2 linked regions of the Homo sapiens genome follow. The protein of the gene in region 2 interacts with the protein of the main gene of each other region in a pairwise test. Each region holds a gene or a part of one and is shown on either strand. Other genes may lie near its edges. The genes, in order: RABGAP1L and C9orf43.

Region 1 (7,280 bases), on a different chromosome or scaffold from region 2:
AAGGTGAGAGGCGAATCCGGCTGGGCTTCTGGGTCGGGTGGGACTTGGAGAACTTTTCTGTCCAGCTAAAGGAGCGTAAACGCACCAATCAGCACTCTGTCTAGCTAAAGGTTTGTAAACACACCAATCAGCACTCTGTAAAAACGCACCAGTCAGTGCTCTGTGTCTAGCTAATGGTTTGTAAACACACCAAACAGCACTCTGTAAAAACAGGCCAATCAGCACTCTGTAAAATGGACCAATCAGCGCTCTGTAAAATGGACCAATCAGTGCTCTGTAAAATGGACCAATCAGCAGGGCGCAGGCTGGGCCAAATAAGGGAATAAAAGCTGGCCACCTAAGCCAGCAGCAGCAACCCGCTCGGGTCCTCTTCCACTCTGTGGAAGCTTTGTTCTTTTGCTCTTCACAGTAAATCTTGCTGTTGCTCACTCTTTGGGTCCGCACTACCTTTATGAGCTGTAACACTCACCGCGAAGGTCTGCAGCTTCACTCCTGAAGCCAGCAAGATCACGAACCCACCGGGAGGATCAAACAACTCCAGACACGCCACCTTTAAGAGCTGTAACACTCACTGCAAAGGTCTGCGGCTTCACTCTTGAAGTCAGTGAGACCATTAACCCACCAGAAGGAAGAAACTCCAGACACATCTGTACATCTGAAGGAACAAACTCTGGACACACCATCTTTAAGAACTGTAACACTCACCGCAAGGGTCCGCGGCTTCATTCTTGAAGTCAGCAAGACCAAGAACCCACTGAAAGGAACCAATTCCGGACACAAAAGGACTTTCTCTAGTTTACTTTCCCAGCCTCTAGTTTACTTTCCCAGACTCTAGTTTCCATCCTCTTGTTAAGTGCTCTCCTTGCTCCCAGTAAATGGACAATGAATGAAATGAAATGCCATTTGGCCCTGAGTGGACAGTAAACAGGAACAAAGCAGACTTTCATACATCCCCACTGCCCACACATAAAGTTCTGCTATATTTGAGAGAAGAAAGTTGCCAAGAAAAAATAGTTTGGGAACAGGGCATCTCATGTACTTTGGTGTTGCCCCCAGGAGTCTGGTCTAATCCTGTCTGGGTACAGGACAAGTTCTGGTTTCATTCAATAAGTTCAACACTCTCAGAATGAAAGAAAAAGTTCTAGGTGTCTAAATCACTTAGAACTGAAATCAATGCATTCTCTCTTTATTTCTTTAAAGTAGTAATGGCCTGGACCCAGATTTTCAAAGGTTACTTTGAATTGCATTAGGTAATCACCTAATTCATTCTTTCTACCAATGTTGTATAGTGTAGACCAACATCTCCAGATTACCATCAACCACCCCAAACCAACCCACCTTTTGGAGGTGTAGAAAGAAGCTAGTCTGGCCTTACAGCAGCATATTCTGGCTTAAGGTAAGGAGTTATAGTCTCAGGTCTTGCAATAATTACTTACATGAATTTTAACAATTACTTTAATGTCTCTCTCTCTCTCTCTCTCTCTCTCTCTCTCTCTCTCTCTCTCCAGGCAGACAGACAGTCAAAAGTACTAGAACTGGGAAAAACCTAACATTTTCTCAGATCTCTAGGAGGTATAATTTACATTATAATTTATCATCATTAGAAGAATGACAACTTTCTATACAGCTCCAGCTCCTTTATTCACGATTATGCAACTATGAATAATTCTTTGGCTCAAAATGAAGAATTATTGGATAGTCATAACTAAGCTATTTTTTTAAAAAAGAAGGATGGGGAGGAAGGAAGACAGGAAAAAAGTCTCATAATAAAATATTAAAAGATGCTCAGGAGACTGAAGTTTGAATATTGCTCACATAACCTTCATTAGAATATGCTATAAAAGCAGTTCACACAGTAATAAAAACTGAGTCAAATAACAGCCATAATAATTTTATGAAAGATTTTTTTAAAACCACAATAATTTCCAAGTACATAGTATATAAAGCCGAGATGCGCCATGGCAGTTTTTTTAATATGAAAATGGGTAAGAGGCTTCTATATTTGTTTCCTGTACTGGTGCCTGCTTTTATCACACAGCAGTCCACATATTATAGTATATGAAGCAGCAAGCATTTTAAAACTTGGGAGAATGAAAGTACTAACAAAAACAGCATATAAAAGATGTTCATTATTCTAATAGAGCATTTTTATCCTGATTTTTTAAAAACTCACACAATTAGCATTCAAGTTATTTTTCATTATTATCTGCTTCCTTTGCTATAATACAAAAGTTACATATTTTATCTACTAATACTGCCTAATTTGAGGATATCATAGAAACCATAATTTTGTTCATTTAATATTAAAATAATTTTATAACCTCACTGATGAGTCAAACAAGATGTTCATATAATATTGTCTATCTAATATTACAGGCAGAAATAACTATAGAAATTAGGTATTTCTTAGAAACATTTTCATTAAAATTTTATAAGCATATGATATTTCTGTGCACTGCCTTTTTGGTTTTAAGTAATTGTTTATAAAAGGCAGAAACGTTGTTTTATATGCAGTCAATATTTCTGTTAAGAAGGTTCATACATTACAGGTTTCTAGGGAAAAAGTATGTAATTATTAAACTTGCTGGGTTTTTTTAGCTAATATTACCTAGATGTGACTTTTTCAAACACTCTATTGGTTGACTTCAAATATCATTTGATTTCTTTGAGGAATTGTATTGTTTTGCAACTTCAGGAATTATCTTGGCATTAAAAAAGAAGTGTGGAAAGAAAAATGTTTGTTACTATATATGAAGAGAACAAAAAGGTCCTACCTGTTTCAATCTCATGAAGAAAGTCTCTGTGAAAGTCTTTCTGCTGAAATACCAAAATCGCTCATTTGCAGGGTACACACGGACTACTGTCTCCAGGAGAAAGCGAACAGGCTCCACCACCTCTGTGACTACCATATCCACTGCCACAGTCATGTATACTTGCTTATCTGTAGTAGAAATTTTCTGGGTTTTATGCGAGCTTTATTATTCCTTGTCTACTTTAAACAAAGTTTCCTCACTTATGAAAGAATTAAAGTTCTTTACAATTGTAATACCTTCTATGTTTATTTTTAACTGTTCTATTCACATTTTGATTAAATAAGTATGCAAGTACTCCAAGCATGTTTCTTAGGAACTAATAATCCTAAGTGTTTGTTGTTTTGAGACAGAGTCTCACCCAGGCTGGAGTACAATGGAGCGATCTTGGCTCACTGCAACCTCCGCCTCCAGGGCTCAAGCAATTCTCCTGCCTCAGCCTCCCAAGTAGCTGGGATTACAGGTGCCCGCCACAACACCCAGCTGATTTTTAAAATATTTTTACTACAGACGGGGTTTCACCATGTTGGCCAGGCTGGTCTCAAACTCCTGACCTCTGGTGATCCACCCCCATCAGCCTCCCAAAGTGCTGGGATTACAAGCGTGAGCCACCACACCTGGCCTCATTGAGGTTTTTGAATCTATGGCCTGGTCATTCCATACCATTTTGTAATTTCCTCATTCCTTTTTAAATATTTTTTAAAATTTATTTTCTTTACAATTTTTAGTTCTCTGTTAAAGGAAAGTCCAAATAACCAAGGCCACCACTAGAAGAAACCCTCAATAGTGTTTTTAAATATTATATAACATTCAGATTCATCAACTACTTCTCAAATTCAATAACAATTTTATTACATTCTTACTAAATACAGTCTTACTAAATACACCTGCCAATTCAAGAGAAACTAAAATTTGTTAGACATTATACTTGACCTGGAGGACCTTAGAGAAAGGAGTAAGGAGTAATAACACAAGACAGAATATAACATTCAACTGGATCTTAGTGCAGTGGAAAGATCCAAGACTTTTCATCTCTCAGGTTCTAAACTTCTTCCATAAAAATCAAACTTTATTTGATCACACATTCTCTGAGTAATGTGTAATTTCAAGGACATAATTTAGAAATTTTAAAAATCAGGGCAACATTTTTGTGTGGCATATGAGATAATGTTAAATTTAAAATGTATACTTTGAATCAGAATATTATAATATACTATTATATAGTTTAATAGAATAAATTATAAATAAATTTTCTTTTGTGGACCAAATATATATTTTATTGCAAAATAAAACTAAACTAGGTGTTACATTAAAAACATAAAAACTATTTTTATAACTTGATATGCAAAATTCTTATATTTTGTTCTTCAAAACTGTCAACTGGCTTATTTTTATCATTTTTGTGGCTTCCTTCTGAACAAGTATAAGAAAGAAGTTACAGGTATTTGCAAGCCTGTCTCCAGAAATAACAAATTGTGGGTCTAAAAATTATTTACTGCTAATAAATGAAAAGTTAAATTTTATATAATCTTTTTTTCTGTTTAGCCTTTATTTTTAGACAGCTTAATATGTGATCAATGTATGTGATTTATATAAATGGTGAATACTCTCTTTAAGGAAATGAAAGAATAATTATCATTTTAATGCCCTTCATTAACATATTATATTTTCATATCAGTATTCACGAATGCTTCCTGTCAGTAACCAAAAGTCTACTGTGGGTATAAACTAAATAATATAAAAATTAATGATAAAACAAACTGATCCATTATATTCTAAATATGAATTAATGGTTTAATGACAGTAAAGCACTTAGGGTAGGCATATAACTCGGCAGGTAAAACTTTAAATTTAGTTTAAAAGTAGATAATGAAGGGGCAAAAAACAGGCAATTAACAGCTATCTGGATGAAGTAGGAATGAAAAAACACAATGGAACAACGAAAAATGTGACTATTCAACATTTATACATTCTGTTCAATACTAGACATGATAAATAATATGAAAAGTTAAAAAACTAAGAAAAAACTATTTGCTACAACTGAAATATTTAATATATATTACAAGCATCCCGAAGGCCAAAAGACTGGAGCCAATAATTAATAAATGAAAAACTATAAGTAAACTATAATGCAAAAATAGTTAATAATTTAAAAATATTCAAAATTCTAAAATATTTCCTTTTCATCATTTTCTTTAATATTTCTCCATCACTAGTCTCCACAAATGAAATAACTCTATAGTGGTATATGAAAAACAAAGCCCAAATGCTTTCTCTATAATCTAATAAAATTAATTCAGGCCAGGTGCAGTGGCTCACATCTGTAATCCCAGTGCTTTGGAAGGCAAGAAGATCAGTTGAGGTCAAAGGTTCAAGACAAGCCTGGGCAACAAAGCATGACCCCATCGCTACAAAAATAAAATTTAAAAATTAGCCATGCATGGCAGCACACACCTGTAGTTCTATTTAATAGCTACTCAGGAGGCTGAGGTGGGAGGATTGCTTGAGCATGACAGTTTGAGGTTACAGTGAGCTATAATGCCCCTATACTCTACCCTGGGCAACAGAGTGAGACCCTGTCTCTTAAAATAATAACAATAATAATAATTCACATATCTTTTGGGGAGGATTTTTTTAAATAGTGGAGATTTCCCCCATAGAAGCATAAAGAATAAAAATGAACCTCAAATTCTCAATGAAAGAATAAGTCCACTTTGAGTTCCAAATTTTTTTTAAAACATGACAAGCAACATTGTTCATAATATAAAATGTAAAGCAAACAATAAGGGATCTTTTAAGAAAAGTCACCTTTTGGGGTTTCCTCGTTAAGTGCCAGAAATACTGGTGCATTGGGGTTCCACATGCCAGTGATGACATAAGCTCTCCCATCATAGCTCTTTCCCATGGATTCCTATAAAAATTCAAACAGTAATTACTGATAAAAGACATCAAAAAAATCACTACTTTAAATTACATCTTACTTTAAGCAATACAAATTATTAAAATTTAGATTAACAGTCAAGCAGGAGCTTTATATTCACTGTAAATTCTTTTCATCCTACAAAAGCATTTATTTAAATATTAAATTCTTCTACAGCTTTCTTCAAGCACAGTTTCTATTTAAAGACATGTACCCTTGGATAAAAGGAGGCATATACTTACATGCTGAATCAAAAAAACATAATATTGTTACAAAGTTGTATTTAACTTGATCTTGACACCAATTGTCCAAATCTCATATACACATAAGAATGTATATGGTTTCTATTAAAACAATAATATAGAATTAGCTGAAGACAGTTAAACTGAACTAGTAGCTAATCACAGTAGGGAAAGTTAATATTTTTCTTCTAATATTCTAATTTTTAATGAATTCTTAAAATATTAATTTAGTTTGTAGCAATTAATACCTTTAAAATTAACACTTGTCTATTTTCTATATGTCAGATATTTATATACTTTCTTACAATCATAAATTAGTATTAGGAGACTAATTTTTGGTTTGTAAGCAGCATCCAAGTGTATTAACTCTCTCCCTCTACTGTTACACTTACTCCCTCTTTCTTCCCTTCTCTCCTTCCTCCTCTTCTCCATTCTTTAAGACTTTACCAAGCCAGCTCTTGACTCTCACTAAAAAAGCCAGCAACTCCTATGGCGAAAGCTAGGCTACTTATAGCTTGTGTATATGTGTGTGGAGAGAGGAGGGGTAGAGTTTGTCCCATGAAAGAACAACACACAGCATACAAGTATTTCCATATGCAAATGAACAGTATCTACAATATTTCAGTTTTTGTAGCGATTTCCTCACATTATGAATAGAGACTGTTAAAAGGGTCAGACTAAAACAAAGAGAAAAACTTTTCTTTTTTCATTATTACCCATTCACAGATGTTTCTCTGAACCCCCTATAAAATTGTGTCAGTCATTTGGTAATTACTATGTATATTTTTCTAGTGTATTAGTAATACTTCACTAATCAGATTGTGTAGCTTGAGCGCAGGGACCATGCATTCCAGAGATGAAATACACTCAAGGTCACTTGTAAACGAAACCCTCTCAGCAGCCCCAACACACTCATATGATAATGGTCTCTTTCTCTCCTCTACACACACACACACACACACACACACACACACAGAGTCACCTGTTGCTTAATGATAGGGTTATGTTCTAAGTTATGTGTCATTAAGTGATTTCTTTATGCAAATAGAATACACCGTACTTATAAAAACCTAGATGGTATAGGGGCTACACAACTAGGCTGTTGCTCCAAGGCTACAAACTTGTACAGCACGTTACTGTACCAAATACTATAGCAACTATAACAATACCATTTGTGTACCTAAACACAGAAAAGGTACAGTAAAAATACATTATAATCTTACGGGACGACCTTAAAGTATGGGTCCATCATTCACGGAAATTTTCTTACTCAGCATATGACTGTTATATATAAGTAATCTGGCTATT
Region 2 (7,280 bases):
GCTCAAGTGTGTGTTAAAAGACCCAGGATTCCTCCAAGAAACCCTAATCTACTTTTTCACAGCATATGAATACTCCTCTTACCAGAATGTGACTCATCTTCTTGCGCCATCCCTCATGTACCCATAAACAAAGCAAAAACAAAAACCTCTAGTTTTATGTTTCTTTTGCATCAGCTGCTTCCCCAACTAGTCCCTAGGTAGATTCATTCATTCTTTTCTCAATCTCCCTTTCCCTAAACAAACATCTTCCAAGCTGCCACCAGAGGTATTATGCTAAATTATAGCATTTCCATGGACTCCCTACCAGCACTGGTTCTCACCTTAGCTGTACACTGGGAGAAATGAAGAGCTTTAAAAAACAAACAAACAAAAAACACTGAGGCCTAGTTCCTACCATCAGAAATTCTGACTTAATAGCTGGGACACAGTCTGAGTATTAGAGTTTTAAAAGCTTCTTGGCTGGGCGCAGTGGCTCACGCCTGTAATCCCAACATTTTGGGAGGCCGAGGCGGGCAGATCACCTGAGGTTGGGAGTTCGAGACCAGCCTGACCAACATGGAGAAACCCCGTTTCTACTAAAAATACAAAATCTTAGCCAGGCGTGGTGGTGCATGCCTATAATCCCAGCTACCGGGGAGGCTAAGGCAGGAGAATTGCTTGAACCTGGACCCAGAAGGCAGAGGTTGTGGTGAGCCGAGATCACACCATGGCACTCCAGCCTGGGCAACAAGAGCGAAACTCCGTCTCAAATAAATAAATAAATAAAAGCTTCACAATTGGTCTTAGTGTACAGTCAAGGCGGAGCACCACTGGCCTGGATGATAAAGGTCAAAAGACTTAGCAGTCCATACAAGCCCCTGCCTACCTCTTTGGTGTGATAGACCACTCTCCCTTAAATACCCAACCCCACAACCACACTCAACTGCTCAGTGTTTCCTGAGCAGCTGTGATCCTCCTAGATGCCTTTGCACAGGCTATTCCCTCTCAAGAGTTCTTTCCCATATCAGGAAAACTCCCACACATACTCAAGATTCAATGCAAAAATCATCTCTTCCATAAAGCCTTTCTCAACTCAGTGAGGACAGGCCACTGCTCTATGAACATGACTCACAGAGGCACCCCAGTCACCCAAGCAAAATTGCTCCTATTGGAGGCATTGGGAAGGGGTACAAAAGGCACCAGAACGGAATTCAGGGGAGTGGTAGTGGTCACCCTAGATGGAGTGTTAACCTTGGATACATCACCTCCTGCCCGGGGCCAAGCCCTGATTCTGTCCACCTCCCATAAGAAGGGCAGGAACCTTCCAACCTTCAGGTTAGAGCAGATCATTGGCATCAGACAACTAAGTGAGATGGGAAGGAAAGCAAGAGGGCAACATCCTTCTCAGGAAACCTCATCTCAGCCCTCCCAGTGCCCCAGGATTGGAGAGCTCTTTCTGATGATTAAACAGTTGTTTTCATATTAAAGTCAGCAATGTCCAGTCTGAGACGGGCACAACGATCCTCCAAAGTTTGGGGGGATTCTTTCTCCCTCCTCCCATTCTCCACTCAAGTTGAAAAATTTTGGAGGGATAGGGGTAAGTATATGCCTGAGCTCAGACATAATAACGACTCCAAAAAGGGGAGATGTCCATTCTTGTGTCCAGCATGAGCACTGGAGCAAAAGAACTGCCTGACAAGAGTTGGCTCCCTGACTCCTGGATGGGGCTAGACAATGTGTTGATTTTAACGTGAGGCTCCAGAGACTCTCTACCTTGTGGCAGGAAGGTTAGGGGGCCCCAGAGCTCTGCTTCCTTAGAACTCTTTTGGGGTTCTAGTGAGGGGCCCCAGCTCTCCCTGCCTCATTGGAAAATGGGCCCTCAGGGTTTTCTCTTCAGTAACCTGGGCTTGTTCCTCTCCTGATCCTCAAAGTGCTCTGCCTTTTCTAAGGTAGAACCTGAGGAAAAGATGACTGGGATTCATGTTCATGGTCATCTTTCAAGCCCTCATGTGAAGCAGACATCTGGCTCAGCTTGTTTGTTTAGCAAATTTATGAGGGAAGGATGGTGCATGAGAGACCAGACAGACTGAAGCATTCCAAGAAACTCTGAGTGCCTGACAAAGGCAGGTCTCAAAATGACAAGAGCATGTTTAGCTTTTCCTGCCCTCAGATACCTACCCCTCAGGGATCCTATCACCCCCAACCAAGCATATATTCCCCTTACCATAGAGACGGTCATGAACGGTGGTAACTGGATGTTTATGTGAAGTGCTCTGGATCCCTGGATCACTCTTGGCTTTCTTTTTAGCCTCCTGAAACCCACATCAGGAGGAACAAATTAGGATTTTTGGAAGTAAAGAAAACTTTTTTCAAAAGGAATATCAAAAAGAAGGAATTTAACATCTACAACCAGACAAGAACTTTTTATCTATAACCAGATAGAAAACAAGGAGACCCCCACCTTTCATACATCCCTTCCCATTCCAGGCTGTAGACCTCTCCCAGTCCCAGCAAGCCCCTCACTGCCACTCTACCTGTTTCTTAATAGGTGTTTTCACCTTCTTCTGTTGCTGCTGCTGCTGCTGCTGCCGCTGCTGCTGTTTCCTGTAACCTGGTGACCAGAGAGCCAGCTTGATCCTCTTCTAACAGCCCCCTCTCTCCCACTGGAATGCCTGCTGTGCCTTCCTTCACAATGGTGACTCCCTGGTAAGGACCAAGCCAGAGGGGCTGCTTCCTGAAACTATTGTTTCCTGAGTTCTACATGTGACCCTGTATGACTGTGGCCACAAATATAACTGAATTGGACCACGTTAAAGTATGAGAAATGTGGGCTAACAGAAAATGGTGCTTAGAGATCCAGCAGCAACAGCAAATCTACCTTCTGTCTTCAGGTTATGTAATTTCTTCAAACGTTCAGGATATCGCAGTGCTGGTCTCTGGAGAAAGAAAAAAGAAAAAGAAAAGCTCTACTGCAGGTCTTTCCCTTTCTCCAAATGTATCCCCCAAATGCGTTTATTCATCCAGTCAACAAGCACATTTTAAGAACCCAGTGTTTTGCAGCATTGTACCAGGGGCTACGGAGGAAGGGAAAAGGTGTGGGGAACAAAGTGCAGAAGAAATAGAGAACATGGCCAGGCATGGTGGCTCATGCCTGTAATCCCAGCACTTTGGGAGGCTGAGGTGGGCAGATCACCTGAGCTCAGGAGTTCGAAACCAGCCTAGGCAACATAGTGAGACCCTGTCTCTACAAAAAATTAAAAATTAGCCAGCCATGGTGGCGCACACCTGTAGTCCCAGCTACTCTGGAGGCTGAGGTAGGAGGATGACTTCATCCCAGCAGGTCAAGGCTGCAGTGAGCCATGATCAACCACTGCACTACACCCTGGGTGACAGAGTGAGACCCAGTCTCTCAAAAAAGAAAAAAAAAAAAAAAAGAAAGAAATAGAGAACATTGCTCTCTCAACACTTCCCCATCGACTGGCTTTTACATACATAGAGCCCAGCCTTCTCTGGGGCATGGGTTCAGAGTGGAAAGGCAGAAGGGAGATAAGGAATAGAATGTCAACTCTTCCAGATTTGAGGAGAGATGGGTTTGAATTTTCACATAGGCTTCTTCCCTGCTGTTTCCTAGCTCTTACTTCCAGGGTGAGGCGGTGTATAGATAGAAACATCTTAGAAGAAATCACACTGTCAGGTCGGTTCTTTTCCAAGGGAAGATTCTTTTTCATCATGGCCAATTTTATCTTCATCTCTGGACAGAGCATGGTTTGCTTTCCACCTGGCAAAAGTCTGAAGGGGACAGAGGACAGCCAGACAGTCAGCAACAGCTCTTCCCGGAAAGCATGGCTGAGGAGAAAGAGATGTAAAGGGCTCCAAGAAATTTCCACTTTGGGTCTGAAAAGGCCTGTACCAACAAGTGTTCATTTGGTAACACTTTTCTGATGCAACTACGATCATCATAGCTGCATATACTCAGTGCTGATTCTATGTCAGGCTCATGTGCTTTTACAACACCTGAGAACAGATATTACTCCCACTTTGCAAATGAGGAAAATGAAGCTTTAAGAGGCTAAATACATTACCAAAATTCATATAGCCAGTTAAGTTTCAATGTAAAATTCAAAGGTCATCTCACTGCAGACCACATATTCTGCCTACCACTTATTCATAATTCACCTATAAAAAGAAGACAGTGATAGTGCCTACCTCCTAGTGCAAATTTAAATGAAAGTACATGTGATATGCCTAGCACAGGGCCAGGCAAATGGTAAGTGTGACAAATGGTGGTGGTTATGATGGTCATCCCTGCCTGTTGGTAAGTCCAAGAGTTCAGTAAACAAATCGGGGTGATAGTTTTCTCCCAGTCCTACTCAGAAAAAGCACACTGTTTAGACCCATCCCAGCTTCAGTAAAAAGCAGGTGCTCTGGCTCTCCCACAGACCTACATGATACTTACTCCTTCAGTAGATCCTGAGGTAACGCTTCGGATTGAGCCCAGAGAGGTAGGAAATCTGAACTGAATTGTTCAGACAATTGCACTGGGGTTGGGGGAGGCACGATCATCCCTGGTGTTCCTACTCGTGTTCCTGCGGACTGATTTCCAGAGAGACCCAGAAATGACTTGCTTTTCTGGAAGAGAAACAATGGAAAGAATTCTCCAAAGCATTCTTTTTAGCCTAGTCCTTTCCATCAACATTCTAGCCTCTCAACACTACCCTGGCATGTACTCCAGCCATGGTTGCCTCCTCTGAACGATGAGGGCCGCCACATGTTTCCCTCTCAAGCTCCCAACTCTGTTGTTGTATTCAGATCATACAGGGATTCGTTGTTTTGTTTCATTTTCCAGAAAGGTCATTCGTTTACTCACTCAACAAACTGAACAAAAATTTATTGTCTAATTATGTGTCAGGCACAGGGCTAGGGATGGGGATTCAGCAATGAACAAAATGAACCAAGACACTACTCTCATGGACATAGCAGTCTTACAGTGACTTATCCAAGGTCACATTTACTCATAAATGGTACAATTAGAGTTAGAAGCCCAGGTCTTATAACCCCTAGTCCATTGAAATTCTATATGATCACGTTGGGGATTCGTTTTTAATTGACCAAAAACTCCCCCCCTGAACACGCAACAGTTCCTCCTATTATCTCAAGGTGCTCTTCATCTCCCTATAGGAAGGAGACAGAAAAAAGGAGTCTCTGAATAGAGAATGGTTTGGTTAATTATTCCTAAAGAAGGGTTTTCTTTAGCAGATTTGGATCATTTCAGGAAAGAACGGGGGTAAGGTGGAGGAGACCTGAAAGGAAAACAAAATAAACTCTACATAGCAATATTATAAAGGTTTGCACAAAAACATCAAACTCACCACTGCCGAGTTCTTTCTTTTCTTCTTCCCATGCTGGCTGGAGAAAAACAAAACAAAACAAAACAAAACATGCTTCTCAGCTGGACTTGAAATAAGAGTAAGCACAACTTATTCCCAGATATCTTAAACAGAAGCTCCAAGGATATTTGTGAATGATGACCACAAAGATTCCTATCTTTGATCAGTACTCAAAGATAGCTGGTTGGGAACCCAGCAGTAACTGCTGCCCAAGTACCTTCTGCTAAAAAGACCCCCCATCCTCATATCTAAATTAGGTTTCCCATTATTCTCTCAGGCAATCCGGTTACCTACTTTCATAGCATGAATCCAAATTAGAAATGATATATGTAGGTGTGGTTATGTCTGTAATGGCTGACTCCCCCTGACAAGGCTCCAACAGGACAGGGACCAAATCTATTTGGTTCACTAAATCCTCACTGCTTGACACAGAGATGTTTGGTAAGAAGTATTTTTTGCTCTGACCTCTTCCTCCTTGCCTGGGACGTGGATATGATAGCTGGATCTCTAGTAGCCAACTTATACCTTAAAAGCAGCCATGAAACTCCTTAGAAGTTGGAATCCATGGGCTAAGGATGACGGCCCAAAAAGCTAGAAGGAGCCCTGGTTTCTAATTATCTCATGGAGCTCACATGACCTAGCCTGCCTACTTCTGAGCTTCTTTCACACGAAAGGAAATAAACCCTTAGGGTTGTTTTTCATTTGTTTATACCATATATACACACACACAAATGCATATATATAGAGAGAAGCACTCACAGGATTATTTTTTAAAAAGAAAAACAAAAGAAATAAAAAGAAATTCTTAAGTTTCATCATCTCTAAATGTCACTTAAGAACCTGAAAGCCTCAAGGATCAGGAAAGAAGAACCAAACACTTTCCCCATGGTTGTCAATATTAGCAAGCCTTTGGGCCTTCACCAAATGGTCTTTGTCACACTCTTTTGTACACAAGTCCTATATGCTATTGCTTTTGTACACTGTACTAGGCCCTGGGGTTGAGAACAGAGATTCACATGCTTCACTGAGAACTTTTTCACTTGTTGCAAGTGGCTAATAAGAAAAACTAAGAGAGAGCATTTATTTCTTAGTCAAGCCTTATAAGTAAGTTGAGCCCTATCTTGTATGCTATTTACTGCCGTGTAAAATTTGATATGGAGAAGTCCCACAGCATGAATCTCAAAATGCATTACATTAAAATTCCAGTGTAGCAAAAGGCAGATGCAACAGACCACGACCTTCTCTGCTTGGCCTCCTGCTACTTGCAATGAGCTGGCTAAATGGGAGATCACAAAAAGGACGCTGCAGAAGACATCAGGGATTTATAGAGTCAAAGTCCTCTGAGTTCCAGATATGATACTCACCTCACATGTATCTCTGTTTCTTCTGGGATCCACAATACAACCATATTTCTAACATCTTCAGGGCAGGGAAGTTGCGTCTCATTCAAATTCAACACTGGAAACTAAGAGAAAGATATAAAGCCTATGTATGGCTTGAGGTGCTAAGCTCCTATATCAGATTAAGGATATGCTAAGCAAAGAGTCTGGTGGCACAGAAGATGATTTTAAGTTTCCCATCTTCAAGATATCTTCATAATATTCTCCCAAAAAAAACAGACTACTCCATCAAATATCAGTATAGGTATCTGCAAGAGTGAGTATTAATAAGCAGATAATCTCCCCTGCTTCCCTGTGCCATTAGGGTAGCATTTAGCAACTCCCAATCCAATCCCATATGAGGGTGCCCTGGGGCTTACCTACAGGAACATTACTTATCCTGCCCACTCCACTCCAAAGACTTAGATCCCACAGACATTACAATCTGCAGTTTGGGAGCAGGAAGAGAACTGATAGAAACAGAAGCAAGGTGTTTTCTTTTACAGTCTGACTACAATTATAGGCATTTATATAA

The links.
Region 1: the proteins of C9orf43 (region 2) and RABGAP1L interact in binary tests that used the Homo sapiens proteins (3 or more experiments, as listed by UniProt).

Annotation. Positions count from the first base shown.
Region 1 is NC_000001.11:174,274,274-174,281,553, reverse strand, and holds part of RABGAP1L (rab GTPase-activating protein 1-like), read right to left. Parts: intron 6,455-7,280; exon of another isoform or gene 6,365-6,454; intron 5,722-6,364; coding exon 5,619-5,721; intron 2,942-5,618; coding exon 2,775-2,941; intron 1-2,774. UniProt on the Homo sapiens protein: GTP-hydrolysis activating protein (GAP) for small GTPase RAB22A, converting active RAB22A-GTP to the inactive form RAB22A-GDP. Plays a role in endocytosis and intracellular protein transport.
Region 2 is NC_000009.12:113,420,654-113,427,933, reverse strand, and holds part of C9orf43 (uncharacterized protein C9orf43), read right to left. Parts: intron 7,216-7,280; exon of another isoform or gene 7,126-7,215; intron 6,832-7,125; coding exon 6,731-6,831; intron 5,386-6,730; coding exon 5,349-5,385; intron 4,609-5,348; coding exon 4,436-4,608; intron 3,769-4,435; coding exon 3,618-3,768; intron 2,916-3,617; coding exon 2,858-2,915; intron 2,591-2,857; coding exon 2,514-2,590; intron 2,292-2,513; coding exon 2,204-2,291; intron 1-2,203.